2 separate regions of the Homo sapiens genome follow, and region 1 is linked to region 2. The links come from fine-mapping of genetic effects on gene expression. Tissue or cell type: spinal cord. Region 2 holds a variant in brackets; the other region holds the start of a gene. All regions are shown on one strand. Distances are from middle to middle.

Region 1 (8,189 bases), 230 kb before region 2:
AATTATCTTTGCGACCCTTCACACCTCCTTTATCAGCCAAATAACTTCTTTGTTCTTATAATGTTCTGTTCATGTGTATGGTATGCCATGTTGTAATTGTGTACTTATAGTGTTGTTTAATTGTGAGTATCTCCTAAAGCCTGTAATCAGTTGAATAAGAATTTTTTTAAAAAAGTTAATTGTGAGCTTCTCAATGGCAGGGATGGCAGTATCCCATTCAGCTTTTACCACAGTGGTTACATATTTTAGCTCCTCAAAAACTCTTTGTTGTGAGTTGACTTAATAAAGCACATAGATAGATAGATAGATAGATATTTAACATTACATATAATGTATAAGTAATAAGTATTATTCATGTATATATTATATGTATACACACATGTGTACAGTTGGCTCTTGAACAACATGATTTGATTTGGGCAGTTCAACTTACATGCATTTTCTTCCACCTCTGCCACTGCTCAAACAACAAAACCAACCCCTTATCTATCTTCCTCTTCCTCCTCAGCCTATTCAATGTGAAGACGATGAAGATAAAGACCTTTATGATGATCCAGTTCCATTTAATGAATAGTAAATATATTGTCTCTTCCTCGTGATTTTCCAAATGTCATTTCCTTGTCTCTAGCTTACTTTATTGTAACAATATAGTATATAATACATATATAAAATATGTATTAATTGACTGTTCATGTTATCTGTAAGGCTTCTGATCAATAGTTGGCTATTAGTAGTTAAGTTTTGGGGAAGTCAAAAGTTATACATAAATTTTCCACTGTGCATGTAGGTCAGGACCCCTAATCTGTGCATTGTTCAAGGGTCAACTTTATATACCCTTATTTGTTGTATATATGTATTTATGTGTGTATTTATAATATATGTATCTGACATATGCATTCATATATATGAAGCCCTTTAGGGGTTAAAAAGGCCCTTAGATATCATTTTATCTATTTAATGAGTATTACAAAATAGGAAGCCAAGAACCAAAGTCATTAATGACTTTACCAAAGTTCTACAGCATGTTAGTAACATACACAGTTTGAGTTCCTGTCCCAGATCTTCATCCAGTGTAACAACTTTCACTACATCATTTTAATTCAATAATCTCACCATTAATATGATTCTCTATAATCCTCTGTACCAAGACCAAGCTTACCCCATTGGAACAGATATTTTGGAGTATGTCACCTCTTTTCTCTTCCAATTCCCTTCTTGCCTCTTTATTTTCATCAAGTGATACACACATAGTGATTCTGTAACTTCTAAATTTTCATTTATGGTATATCTTTTTTCTTTAAATATTCTCTAGTTCTTTTGAGAACTACGTTCAACTCCTTTACAGATATATTAAAGTCTCCTTTCCCTTTGGTAAAAAAAAAAAAATAAAGAAGTCATTATTTTGCTTTCCAATTGAATGAACTATTTTTTTTTTTTACCAAACCAAGGATCACCAGTCAAGAAATATCTTTAACATCCTCATCACACTAGCTTACATTTGCATACAGCTTTGAAGTTTACCAATCACTTTCTCATAACTCATGTGATTTTCACACACTGCAGATAGGCAGAAGAAGGTGTCATCACATTTACATGCAGTTGAGAAAACTAAGGGTCAAAATTTAAGTGAACTGCCAAAATTCCTACAGCTAGCAAGAGCTAGGACTGGCACTGGAATCAAGGTCTCCATATCATTGTTTCTGAGAGCTTCCCACTATTTTAAACTGTTTATTGGCTTGTGTTCCTACCATGACATTTATGATGACATATATTGACACCTCAGATGCTGTACAGTGAATGTTGGCTGGGCTCTTTTCCATCTGAATTATTGCTTGGCTCTTGTTACTTTGCTAGTATAAATTTCAACTAGGCAACTACTATTTCATCCTACACTGACTTACCTAAGAAGCTCTCCCCAAGCATCCATATGATACCATTTAATGGTAAATTATAATTTGATTAATGTTTGTCATTATGAATGTGCTTTTAACAAGTAAAACCCTAGCTTACGCTAAATTAGAGATCTTCAAATCTTCGTTTCAAATTGAAGTAAATTAATTTTATTTCATTTGAATTCATTACTCAACTGATCTTCAAACTTAAGGTGTTAGCAAGAATAATCTTGCTTTTTAAAATGTGTATATGTTTCATGTAATCTTCTAAGACAAATTGTGTACTTTGACTTTAAATAAATTTCTGTTTAATCTCCTCACTAAATTTCTGGATAGCTGCAACTTCTTTAAAAATTCCAGATATCGATAGTGATGCAATTGTAGAGTAGACTGAGCTGTCTCTTCAGTAGTGGTGCAGAGATGGGCTGAAGCAGGAAAAGACACTCACTCCCTGAAACCTGTTTGCAACCCCATGACGAATACATACTTTCCCTTTCAACTACAACATTCTCTTAATGTTTGGCATGACCAAGTTATTCTTAAATTACCCCCTAGCTCTAAGCAACAGGAATAATCTTTTCCCATTTTATTCCTATGAACATGTGAAGTTTCAGGTCCCCTAAGGAATTCTCAATGTTTTTTTAATGCAGAGAGAAAGCGAACCCGCAGAAAAGGGGTTGGTAATTCCTCACTCCGTATTGTTTTCCTGCCTGTCACGGCCCCCGCCAGAAACTCCAAGCATTTTGCCAATGGGTAATGATGGGCAGTTAGTAGCTGCTTTTGTTGGGTGGTTGAAAAACAAAGCAAAACAATTCTCAAGGAAGGAAGAGAAAGTTTGAACCCAGACATCCTAAAAGTTGTACACTTTAAAAATCCTCCGACTCGCTAGTTAATAATTGAGTTTTCAGTCTTTCCCTGAAGGCTCACTGGAGCCCCATTTGCCTTTAATTGTTGGAACCGCCCTCACTTGGCTTGTTTCTGAGGTGTCCCACATATCACAAAGCTAAAGTTAACAAATTCAACTCTATATCCACAAATGTCATGACAGTGAGCATATTGCTTTGCCTAAAGAATAAAGACTGAGACTAAACTCTTTGCTTGTTCTTTGCTAGAAATCTGTTTGAGAAACTCCTAGTAGAATGAAAATCCAGGGGTTAAAAATAATGCACTTCATCATGGAAGTGCGCGTTGCCCTCATTACAGAGCTGCGAGAGAAATATTCCAGCTACTCACTGTTGCCTCTTAGTTGTTATGCTTTTCTTTCCTAATTGCATCGGACATGACCTATTTGCTTCCTAAGAAATCATACTTTTTACCTTAGGATACCAGCATAACCAAGCCATCCAAAAGCACCGGGGTCCCTACAGAAGCCCACCAGCTCCTTAATGTGGCCCCAGATGTGAAGATGGGGAAAGGGTAACTCCGTCCCACTTACCAGTCTTCCACAGATAGAGGGTGGGCGCCTCCGCCTCGCCCTGCGCCGCAGCCCTGCCGGCGCCCGGGCGTAGCAGCAGCAGCAGGAGCAGCGGCAGCGGCAGCGGCAGCGGCAGCAGCTGCAGGACGCCCCGGCGCGGCCCCGCAGCGCCCCGGCTCCCGGACGCCCAGCGCCTGGCTTGCAGCCCCATGCCGCCTGCAGCCACTCCAGGGTCCAGAGCCGTAGCACGCTCGGCAGGGAATTTTTCTCCGCTCTTGGAACGTCTTTTCAAAGAGTACAGAAAGCAAAGCTCTTTCCTGCTATTGTTCGCTTCAGATGAGAAGGAGGGAGAGCGCGTCTAACACCAGGGAACAATAGCGTCCGCGGTGGTGGCCGTGGCCGCTGCCGCCGCCGCCGCCGCCTCTGGCGGGGATGCTGCTGCCGCTGCCATTCCTCGCAGAATGGCAGGTCCCGGCGGCTCCGGAGGCAACTGTCCTCAGGGGGCCCCAGCTGACTGAGCAGGTCTGCTAGGTCTGGGAGGCAGCGCAGCCCCCGCCAGCTGGAGGGGGAGGAGGGGGGCGTGAGCCCAAAGGAGCAGAGGGGGCTGGAGGCAGAGGGAGGCGAGAGCGCGAGGGCGAGAAAGGGGGCGAGCAAAGGGGAGAGGGGCCAGCCAGGCGACACCCACCTCCGACATACCCGCCTAAAGAACTCCGGTGCACATGGTGCGATGAAATATGTTTGGAAGGATGCACCAATAAAAAGAATCATCACCCGGCAGATTTCAGAATGACAAATAACAGGCATTGATATTCACTGTCATCCAAGGAGTCAAATGCTAGATCTAGTGGCATGCTATTCTTAGTACGTATTTACACAAAGCATCAGTGTTTATTATCTATTTTTAAGCCATGGCTTCTGAATTACTTTGTGTGGGGAGCAGTATTTGAGATCAGGTGTGAAAACACGAGAGCAGAAATGTTGACTTGTCAAAATGCACTTAAACCCTTCTTTAAATGTTGTTTTTAACTTAATCTATTATCAATAAAAATATGAGCAATATTGATGCTCTGTGACAAATTAAATTGTCTTTTAATAGCCTTTAAAACTGAATTAGTGTTAATGAGTATTTGCAATGCTACCTAATTACATAAATACAATTGTACAAAAAAAAAACCCTTAAAATTAAAATTATATTTCAGGTATAGAGTTCTGTCCCTTCATCTACTTCTTTCCCTCAAAAATATGCTACTTCTAAGTATTCAGATAGTTGTGAGTCAAACTGAGTCAGTAATGCTGTCTGGATATCTTGGAATTAGTAAATTCTTCATTTAAAATTTCCCTGACACCGATTTTTCTTAACTCTTACTGTAGCAAAATGCCTGTCGCAATCTAAATAAGGAACCACATGTGTTTGCATCTTTTGTCCTTTGTGTTTTCACTTTCTTCTACCAGTAGTAATAGAAGAATGTGTGTGAAGTCGGATAATGCTTTCCCCTTTCTCCTTCTCCCTTTAGCTAATAATAATATATTTTATTATTAATTCATTTCACAGTAAAGCTAAAATAGTAGGCATTTAACCATTAAAAATTCAGCAAACGGAAAGCCAAAGAAAACTACTATCCCATCAGCAATTTTCAGCCAAATAAAATAAAATTTTAAAAGCAGGAAAACTACTTTTTATGAATTTACTCCAACATAGCTACCCTAGAGTTTAAGATGAGGAAGCTACTCTTTCTGAAAGAGGAAACCTTCCATAAGGCTCCCTTGGGACCCTTGTCATTTTGCAAAGCCTTCCAGACACAGCCCCTCTGCATGCATTAGATTAAAAGCGGGTTTGATCAAATAATTCCCAGGTCCTGCCTGTTTAAGTATTCTGACATCAGAGGAAATTAGCTACGTTGAAGGTTGCAAATTTGGTCTTTGTTTACTTTCCGCTCTGTTAGGCCTCTAAGAAGGAATTAAAAGCTCAGAGAGCCCGAGCGCTGTGAGTCTGTGATTAGGAGAGATAAGCTAGTGTGGCTTACTATTTCTTCACTCGTGAAAAACAGGCAACAATCAAAAGATTATAGGTTGATAAGGAATAAAAAGGAAGCCTGATCTTAACTAATGTATGGTTCCCTGAAGGATCACTTCTTTTGACAGTTACACCACAGAAGGAAATGGGACCTGCTATTGCTTCCTGGGTTCTGTCGTTTCAGGAAAATTTCCATGTCCACTCCACAAGGAATCATTTTCCCATCCTTTCTGCTTGTATTTCTCAGCTACTGTTAGTGCCCTAAACCTTGAAATCCTCTAACTCTGGCACAGGAAGTATTTCAAACTGGACATACTCTGCTAACAGCAGCCATTCTACGCATTCGTGGGAAGCGCCAATCAATTCACCAAGTGGGAATTCATTATATAACAGAGGACAGAGAGTCTGAGGAATTAAGTTAATGTGCAAGGTCATTTACCTAGCCCTTCAAAAAGCCATCCGACACTATACTTAATAGCTTATTGTCAAAAGAAATTTTAAGATTCTGACCTTTATATTTACCCATGGTGGTATAATAATAACTCAACTTGTCAAGAGTGTAAACATCATAGCTACAAATTCAAGCATTATACGGGGTCAATTTCTAGGTTCCAATTTGCTGCCATTTACAATACACAATTATGGTGATATGTTCTGCAGTACTGTTTCAAAATAGCCAACATTTGGTTTCCTTCTTTCAATTTCAACGTACACAAGGCCTAGGAGTCACACACACACATGCACATACACAAACACACACAATCATCAGCAAAGATATCTCTGAACAAGGTTAGAGAATCCAAGTCATATAAACATTTGTCTCCACACCTGCCACACATTTGTTCATAACAATGTCATTATTGCACTTGAGGACAAAAATGTATGGGTCTCTGAGGAGACAAAAGTGATGTATATATCCTGATATGTGTTCCTTTGTGAAAGGTATAGTGTCTAGGTAGATAAATCCTATCAATAAAACTGATAGATGGCAAGAGATAGCAAGACATAGCAATATTTGTTTCCTAGAATATGACATAAATAATAATACACAAATGTTTAATGACATGATGTCAAAATTTAGTCATGAGAAGTCTCAAGGATGCAGATTAAATTGACCATCTGTACAGCCTGCCATGAAGTAAATCGTTCGTCATTTTTCATGGAGAACTGTTCAAATATTAATGAGCCAGTGCGATAAAAGTTCTCCAAACCAATGAATGACAAATGCAAAGCATATTTTTTTAATATTTAGAAATGAAAAAATTCTAAACTTATCACCTCTCATGTGATAGGTGTCTTTATTCTGCCTCTATTAATTTTGCTATCATTTCTAAACTCCAGAGGTAAGGATGTGAACATACCTATACACATCTGTTTTCTCTTTTATTAGAACATAAACATATAAATATATATTACAACTCATGAGACTCATGACAATGACTTTTAGTCATTAGTATCAATATTTTAAAACAATTATGAAATATTCAGTTCCTTGATGGAAAGGGAAACAACTTTTAACATCAACAGTTTTATAATTATAAAAAAGTGAAGAAATATAGTTATTTATTGATAGTATTACATATGGAAATATCTAAAGATGTCCATTTTGAAATAAAAACTTAAAAATAATTCTCCACATAAATGCATTTTGCATCCTAAAAAATAAAAAATACCCAAAGGAATTCTATTTGTGCAACCTCTAGGTGTCACACTTGACCAAGATTTGGATGAGACAAAATTTATTTTGGGCTTCTTTCTATCCTCCCCTTCCCTTGACACCCACCCACCAAGTTTATAGGTACACCTCATTTTACTGTGCTTTACACATATTTTTGTTTGTTTGTTTGTTTAACAAATTTAAGGCTTGTGACAACTTGGCATTGAGCAAGTCTATCAACATAATTTTTCCCACATGAAGTGCTCACTTCATGTCTCTATCACATTTTGGTAATTTTCATAATTTTTCAAATGTTGTCACTATTATTCTATCTGTTATGGTGATCTGTGATCTGTGATCTTTGATGTTACTGTTGTAATTATTTTGGGGCACCACATACTGTGCCCATATAAAATAGCAAACTAAATTAATGAATGTTGTTGTGTATTCTGACTTCTCCACCAACAGGCTGTTTCCCTATCTCTCTCTCGTTGGGCCTCCCTTTTCCCTGAGACATATGAATATTGAAATTAGGCTAATTAATAACCCTACAATGGCTTTTAAGCGTTCAAGTGAAAAGAAGAATTACAAGTCTCTCATTTTCAATCAAAAGCCTAAAATTATTAAGCTTATTAGGGAAGGCATATCAAAAGCCAAGATAGGCCAAAAGCTAGGCCTCTTGCACCAGTTAGCCAAGTTGTGAATGCAAAGGAAAGTTCTTGAAGAAAATTAAAAGTACTACTTTAGCAAATACACATATGAAAGGAAGCAAAACAGCCTTATTGCTGATATGGAGAAAGCTTTAGTGATCTAGATAGAAGATCAAATCAGCCACAACATTCCTTTAAACCAAAGCCTAATCCAGAGAAAGGCCCCAATTCTATTTAAACCTGTAAAGACCAAATGACATGAGGAAGCTGCAGAAAAGTGTGAAGCTGGCAGAGACTGTTTCATAAGGTTTAAGGAAAGAAGCCATGTTCACAACAAAATTGCAAGGTGAAGCAGCTGTAGCAAGCTACTCAGAAGATGTAGCTAAGATCACTGATGAAAGTAGCCACATTAAACAATTTTCAACATAAACAGATGAAAGTACCTACATTAAACAATCAATTTTCAACATAAATGAAAAAAGCCTTCTATTAGAGGAATATGCCATCTAAAATTTTAATAGCTAGAGAGGAGAAGTCAATGCTTGGCTTTAAAATTTCAAAG
Region 2 (8,189 bases):
AATTATCAGGGATAACCAATCAAAATGTCAATGAGATATCACCTCACATCTGTTAGAGTGGCTATAATCAGAGAGATCTGGAAGAAAGGGAACCCTTGGGTAATGTTGCTGGGAATGTACAAACATGATGGAAAACAGTATGTGGGTTTCTAAAAAAATTAAAAATAGAACTACCCTATGACCCAGAAGTCTCACTTCTAGGACTATATAAAAACAAAACTAAATCAAGATTTTCAAGAGATCTGCACCCCCATATTCATTGCAGCTCTATTCACCATAGCCAATATGTGCAAACAACCTGTGTCCATCAACAGGTGACTGAATAAAGAAAATGTAGTATAAATACATAATGGAATGTTGCACAGCTTTTATGAATATTTTTTTCTGAATATTATTCCACATTGCAAAAAAATATAAAAACCAGTTATTTGTAACAACGTGGATAAACCATGTATAAATAATCCAGTCACAGAAAAACAAATGCTTCATGATCTCCTATGTGGGATCTAAAAGAATCAAACTCATAGAAGCAGAAAGAAGAGTGTTTGCTAGGAACTGGATAGATGGGGAAACAGCAAGATCCTGTTAAGGAGTATAAAGTTTCAGTGTAACAAGAATAAGTTATGGAGATTTAATGTATACCAATGTGACTATAATAAACAACTTACTGTATAATTGAAATTTGCTAAGAGGTTAGCTCTTAAGTGTTCTCACAACAAAAAGAAACAAAAATGATAACTCAAGAAATGGCTATGTTAATTATCTTGGCTGTTGCACTTATGTCACAATGAATATGTATATCAAATCATCAAATTGTACTTCTTAAATATATACAATTTTCAATTGTCAAATATACTTCAATAGAAACATTTTTTTCTAGAGGAAACATTTGTTATGACTTTCAGTAAGAAAAATCTGTTAAGGACTTTAAAAATAGCATTCCCAGAAGTTTTCTGGTTGAGAGACTGGCCTATGATTTTCTAGGACATCACTTTTTTGTCTGTTCTCTTGTGAATAATTTGGAGAACAATGGGTCACTGGAGGAAAGACTCTTCGAACCCAACACCTGATGCAGCCTTTGGCTCCTCCTACATCTTGAAGCATGACTTTTGATAATTTTATGAACTTCAATTTTCACATCTATTAAGTGAAAATAATCAAAAGAATGAAATATAATGAAAATCAAAATACCTTTCAGGGAAAGAGCTGAAAGAAACTCATTTAATTGGAGAAAAAAATTCTACCAAAAATAAATTTGCACATTTAATTTGCTCTGGATATTGCTGTCCTAAACTATTCTATAGTAGACAGAATTATGCCACCCCTTCCTCCCCTCAAGAAAAGTTGTTCATATCCTAATATGTTACCTCTCATGGCCAAAGGGACTTGGTTGATGTTATTCAGGTGAAGAAATTTTTTTTTTTTTTTTGATATAAGATCTCACTCTGTCACCCAGGCTAGACTGCAGTGGTATGATCTTCGCTCACTGTAGCCTCGACCTCCTGGGCTCAAGTGATTCTCCCATCTCAGTGCTCAAGTAGCTTGGACTGGAGGTATATGCCACTATGCCCAGATACTGGATAATTTTTTTTATTTGTTGTAGAGATGAGGTCTCACTATGTTGCCCAGGCTGGTGTCAAACTCCTGGCCTCAAGCAAGCCTCCCGCCTCGACCTCCCAAAGTGCGGGGATTACAGGCAGAGCCACCACAGCTGGCCATAGGTAAAGGATCTTTAAATGGGGAGATTATCCTGGATTACTCACATGGGCCCAGTCTAAATATACGAGTTCTTAAAAATGGAAACTTTTTCCCAGCTGCAATCAGAGAGATATATAACAAAAGATTGTCAGAGGATGAATTTTGCTCGTTTTAAAGATGCAGAAAGGGGGTCATAGTCAGGAAATGTGGGTAGCCTCTAGAAATTGGAAAGTCAATGAAACCAATCCTCCTAAAAGCCTCCAGAAAGGAATGCAACCCTGCTGATACCTTGATTTGAGACTAGTGAGACTATGTAGGACTGCCAGAAGAGTAACATAATTTAGTGTTGTTTTAAGCCACTAACATTGTGCTAGTTTGTTATGGCAACAATAGAAAACTAATACATATTGTTATGCTTATTCTCTTTAAGTAACTTTAAAAGGTAAAACTGAGATCTGCCCCATCCATAAATATAACTGAGTCATTGACATCAAATAGACCCGGAAGCAGATTAATGGTCTACATAATGTGATTATCACACATGCCACAGGCAAAGCAGTTACTAAGGATCAGTATGTATCTTCTCACTGAATCAGGGAGTAAACTTACTTTCATGGAGCCAAATCACAATTTGCCAATGAAGCTGGATGTTTGAACTTTTCACCTTGCTTTTATAAAAAGGGTGTTTTATTTTATGTTTTGCAAAACTTTTTTTTTTTAGCTTCCCTAGCCACCACAAAAGAGAGTTATACTTGCTGTAAGCTCCCCCAGGCAGAAATCAGAAATTAGAGGACATAGCAACAGAAAGAAGGGTCTTTTAAAAATGCCTGAATGACTTGTGTTTGTCTAACACCTAGCTGTGGTGGAAGAAGAGTATAAGAAACAGACTGTCTACTTATTGATTGTTGTAGGTAAAATATGCACCTAATTGCTTCAACAACAGAAATATAGTCTCCGTCTTGAAAGGAAGTTGAAATATACTATATTGAAACTGTTTTGCAGAGACTGCAAACAAGCAGGATCCTCCAGTTAGAATTAGTTTCAAGACTTATAATTTTAATATTTTAAGTACAAACAGGAGCTTGAGCTGGACAAAATGTCAGCTTATAGGACTTTATAAGTGATTTCTTTACTGATTATATGAGAATTATTTGTGATTAGCATTTCATTCACCTATAAAACGAAAGATTGCTTTAAGTAGATATTTCTCTTTTTACGTCAAATGGAACAAAATTTAGTTTAGACGGTAACTTTGTTTCTGCACTTAAAAACACATTGAACTGCAGTCCAGCACTTATGTAAATGTTTTACCATCATTTTATAATGTGAATTAGTGACATTAATGAAAATAAAAAATAAAGGTGTATGTGAAGCTCTTCCCCACTTGAAGTGAATGGAGACCTGTTCCCTGGAGGAGAATGGGAATCCCAGGCAGGCCCCCAAAATTGTTGGAAGTAAATGTTCAGTGCCACAAAGTAAAAATAGCATTCAGACAAAAGTTTTCTCAACAAGACAATTTACTTCTATAGAAGGGTGAGTCTCATGGATAGAGCAATGGAGAGAGCACACCAGACAAGGGATGGGAAGAGCGTCTTATCCTTAATGCAGCTAGTCCCTACTGCTGTGTCTTTCCCCTATTGACTAGGGTTAGACCACACAGTCTAAGGTAATTCCAATTGGCTGCTTTAAAGAGAGCAGGGGTATGACCTGGAATGGTGAGGTGAGTAGTTT[C/T]GGTGGGAAGGATGGTTACAAAACAGGTGACTAAGGATGACTAAGGACAGAACAGGTGACTAAGCATGGAACAGGTGACTATAAGGATGAGTAAAGACAGAGGAGGTGACTAAGGACAGAGCAGGTGATAGAGATTAGGAGGGGGCTGTTTATTGAAACTAGGGACAAGAGACGTAAAGAACGAAAGGACGTTAAGAAACATATATAAGAAACATATACCACAATGATGTGCTGCCCTTTTTCACTCTTCTCTTTTGTCACCCAGGTTTTACTAAGGACTAGACATGTTACGTTTGCTTTCCCTTTGTATTCCTAATAGAAAACATGCTGTATGATTTTGTTTGTTTTATATCTGCTTATTTTAGGACTGTTTGCCATACCACAGAAGTAATGCAACTTGGTCTGCACTAAGGCCTTGTAGGATACAGTAGATTTCTCTTTAAAGAACCAATATGTCACTATGTTCAGCTTCCCTGTTCTTTGTTCCTCATCTTAAAGTTTAACTTCCTTGTTCTTTACGTCTCTTTGTCCCTAGTTTCAGTAAACAACCCCCTCCTAACCTCTATCACCCTCTCTGTCCTTAGTCACCTGCTCTGTCCTTAGTCATCTGCTCTGTCTTTAGTCATCCTTATAGTCACCTGTTCTGTCCTTAGTCACCTGCTCTGTCCTTAGTCATACTTAGTCACCTGTTTTGTAACCATCCCTCCCACCAAAACTACTCACCCTGCCATTTCAGCTTGTACCACTGCTCTCTTTAAAATAGCCAACCCGAATTACCTTAGACTGTGCGGTCTAACCCTAGTCAATAGAGGAAAGACACAGCAGTAGGGACTAACTGCATTAAGGATAAGACTCTCTTCCCCTCCCTTGTCTGGTGTGCTCTCTCCATTGCTCTATCCATGAGACTCACCCTTCTATAGAAGTAAATTGTTTTGTTGAGAAAACTTTTGTCTGAATGCTATTTTCACTTTGTGGCACCGAGCATTTACTTCCAACAATTTTGGGCGCCTGCCCGGGATTCCCATTCTCCTCCAGGGAATGGGTCTCCATTCACTTCTCGTGGGGAGACGCGTCCCATTGCCTCATTGTGGTGGCCTCAGGGTGAGAGATGGGGAACCACCCAGTGCGACAAATAAACTCGGGCTCTCAACAACCCAGAAGGAAACAGGATGATAGCTTGGGGAAAGGATTCTCACATACCGCAGCAATCAGGTAACTCTGTACACAGACCAAGTTAAGCAATGTCGCAGGGGTGACGAAGTATTTCCTTGCTGGTCAAGATATTCTGGAGGTTAAAAGTGTGTTTAAATGATCACAAACACTACTGCTTGCAGTGCTGCTTGTGTGAATGGTACTACGCACTACCGCTGTGTGGAGTGAGTGGGTCCTATCTGCGGTTCCATGGTCACCTCATACGGCTTAGGACAGATCCTGCCATGGGGTTCAAACTGGCATGCCAATACCAAGAGGGGCCTAGACACCCAAAAGGGAAGCGGCCAGAGTGGATGAAGCAAAAGAAGGGTGCAAGGATCCTCCAGCAGGTGGGGCTAAAAGATAGGCAAGAAATCTCTAGTATGAGGGATTAAGCCTAACTAGGACCCAACATGGGAAATACCCTAAGCAAGACAGGGAGTAAAAAGGATAAAAATACCAACAAAGATGATTCCCCCTCATAGTCCCCTAGGTCTCATGTTAAAATACTGGAAAAATAATGAGAGGACTAAACATAAGAAAAAGCAACAAATGATAAAATATTGCTGTTTTATTTGGACTCAGAGACCCATCTTCAAACCCTCAAATCTTCTGACCAAAGTTTGGGTCGAATGAAGATGTAATGTGTCAGCTTTTCATTCAATATGTAAATGATAAAAGCCTCGTTTCTCAAGAGGAACTAGACTATGCTCTTTGTTGGAGGCAGAGACCTGTCCTTTTCCCCTTAAAGACAACTAGGGAAGAACCCAATGTAACATCACAAAAGGAAAAATTACATAAGTTAGTTCCCATGCGCAAAGACTCCAGCATATGGGATCCCCTAGACCATCTTCCCCTGCTCAGTGACCCCAAGCCCTCTCCTCAGACAGCTGCTGCTGCCCAAGATCCTGCTCCAGATTCTTCACCTACTCACGTTATTCCCCCTCCTTACAATCCTGACTCTTGGAAATTATCATCCCAAGAGTCTGTCCCCTAACAGCCTAAGGACCCCTCCCTAAAGGGACTCCAATGTGAAATAGAACAATATAAAAAGGATATCCGAAACTTCCCTTTTCCCTCTACAACTAAAGAGTCAGCCCCTGATCTCCTTCCCTTAAGATAGGTGCCACAAGGAGGAGGAACCATTGACTTCATGGATACTCCCTTAACCAGTTCAGAATTCCAGAGTTTAAAAAAGGAGCTTAAGCCATTACTAGATGACCCTTACGGAGTGGCAGATCAAATTGATCAATTTTTAGGACCTCAGTTATACACTTGGGTTGAGTTAATGTCCATTTTGGACATCCTCTTTTCAGGAGAAGAAAGGAGTATGATTCATAGGGCTGCTATAGTAGTTTGAGAACGTGAGCATTCACCCAGTCAAAACGTTCCTACCATGGACCAGAAATTCCCTGCCCAAGACCCCCGCTGGGACAATAACAACACAACTCACCAGGAAAATACACAGGGCCTAAGGGAGGTGATAATCAAATGAACTCGGGAATCAGTACCCCAAACCCAAAATCTTTCTAAAACATTTAATATGCAACAGAAAAAGGATAAAGGGCCTATGAAATTCCTAGACAGACTGAAGGAACAAATGAGACAATATACAGGCCTCAATTTAGAAGATCCCTTTGGATGAGAAATGTTAAAACTCCAATTTTTCACAAAAAGTTGGCCAGACATTTCAAAAAAAGTACAAAAAAATAGAAAATTGGAAAGACCAGACCGTCCCCCGAGTGAACTTCGCATGGAAACTCAAAAGTTATGTGTGAGGAGAGACGAAAAAAATCAGAAACAAAAGACAAAACTTACATTATCCACCTTCCAACAGAAGACTCCAAATCCATGTCCTTCTAAACAGAGCTTCCAGAGACACAGAAACTATAAAGGGTCCAAACCCTTCTTTAAAAGACCTAAGCCTCCATCTGGAGGACCAAGGCCCTCTGAAGAGTATGGCAAAACAAAGTAAAAAAATCCCAGAACTGAGAGGTACAAAGGACAAGATAGGTGCTACAAATATGAAAGTACAGGCCACTTCAAGAGGAAATGTCCTGAATTCAAAAAAGAGAAAAAAGTCCTTCCGTTCATTACTTTTGAGGAAGAATAAGGGAGTCAGGGGCTCTGTCTCTTTTATGTTGAGTCCCACCAGGAGCCCTTAATAAATTTAGAAGTGGGACCTAAACATGAATTTATCACTTTTTGTTCGATTCAGGGATGACTTGTTCCTCTGTTGGTTTCCCCCCATCTAATATTGCCTACTCTTTGGAAGGACTTTTGCTCTCTGGAGTGAAAGGTGAAGGATTTAAAACAAAAATTTTAAAATACACAAAAGTCAAATACCAAGATCAATCAGCTCATATTCAGTTTTTGTTAATCCCTGAAGCAGAGACTAATTTATTAGGGAGGGATTTAATGTTGAAGTTAGGCAGAGGCCTACAAGTCAGACCAAGAGAATTCTTCACCTCATTAAACCTACTCACCAATACAGAGACAAAATACATTAATTCTAATGTCTGGTCCAAAGAAAAGAACTGAAGAAAACTCTGAGTCCCTCCAATCCACATCAAGCTAAAAACCCCCGGGGAAGTAGTAAGGAGAAAATAATACCCCATTCCCCTAGAGGGCAGGATAGGGTTAAAACCTATAAGTGAAGGTCTTACTAAAGATGGGCTTCTTGAGCCCTATATGTCCTCTTATAACACCCCAATACTGCCTGTCAAGAAATCAGATGGGTCATACTGGCTGGTAAAAGACCTTAGAGCCATTAACCAAATAGTCCAAACTACCCACCCCATTGTTCCCAATCCTTACACCATTCTCAGCAAGATTCCATATAATCATCAATGGTTTACTGTTACAGATTTGAAGGATGATTTTTGGACATGTCCCCTGGCTAAAGATTGTGAAGATATATTTGCTTTTGAGTGGAAAGATCTCCATCCAGGGTGAAAACAACAATATCGATGGACAGTCTTATTCCAAGGGTTCACAGACTCCCTTAACCTTTTCGGTCAAATTTTAGAACAAGTATTAGAAAAAGTCATCATCCCAAAACAAATATGCCTACTCCAATATGTTGATGATATTCTTATATCTGGTGAAGATATGGAGAAAGTAGCTAGCTTCTCTACACATATTCTTAACCATCTGCAGTTCGAAGGGTTACAAGTCTCAAACGGAAAGCTTCAGTAGGTAGAGCCTGAAGTTAAATATTTAGGCCACAGTGCAGACAAGTGAAAAATAGGGCCTAAATAAGTTGAGGGAATCGTATCCCTACCCTTGCCTCAAACTAAATAAAAACTCAGGAAATCTTTAGGGTTAGTTGGATACTGTCACTTATGAATTGACTCATATGCACTAAACAATAAACTTTTATATCAAAAACTTGCCCAGAAGAAGCCTGACCATCTCCTGTAGACTTCTGAGAAAGGTGATCAGATCAAAGAGCTGAAAGAAAGGCTCATAACCACCCTTGTCTTAGCCTTACCTTCCCTAAAAAGCCATTCCACATTTTTGTCAACGTGGATAATGGAGTAACTTTAGAAGTGCTTACTGAAGGACAC

Evidence for each region. PIP is the estimated chance that this variant, and not a neighbour inherited with it, causes the effect.
Region 1: THSD7A starts here. The variant in region 2 is fine-mapped to the expression of THSD7A in spinal cord (GTEx, PIP 0.96).

Annotation. Positions count from the first base shown.
Region 1 is chr7:11,828,430-11,836,618 of GRCh38, forward strand. THSD7A (thrombospondin type 1 domain containing 7A) reads right to left here and starts at 3,769. Exons shown (of 28, transcript NM_015204.3): 1 at 3,328-3,769. The coding sequence starts at 3,517. RefSeq lists a silencer at 1,514-1,808 and enhancers at 3,366-3,906, 3,907-4,446.
Region 2 is chr7:12,062,711-12,070,899 of GRCh38, forward strand. All of the region lies in intron 1 of LOC124901589 (a long non-coding RNA gene), which reads right to left. Among named protein-coding and RNA genes, the nearest start is that of TMEM106B, 140 kb to the right of the region's middle. RefSeq lists an enhancer at 3,248-4,447. The variant C/T (reference allele first, on the strand shown) is at 3,430.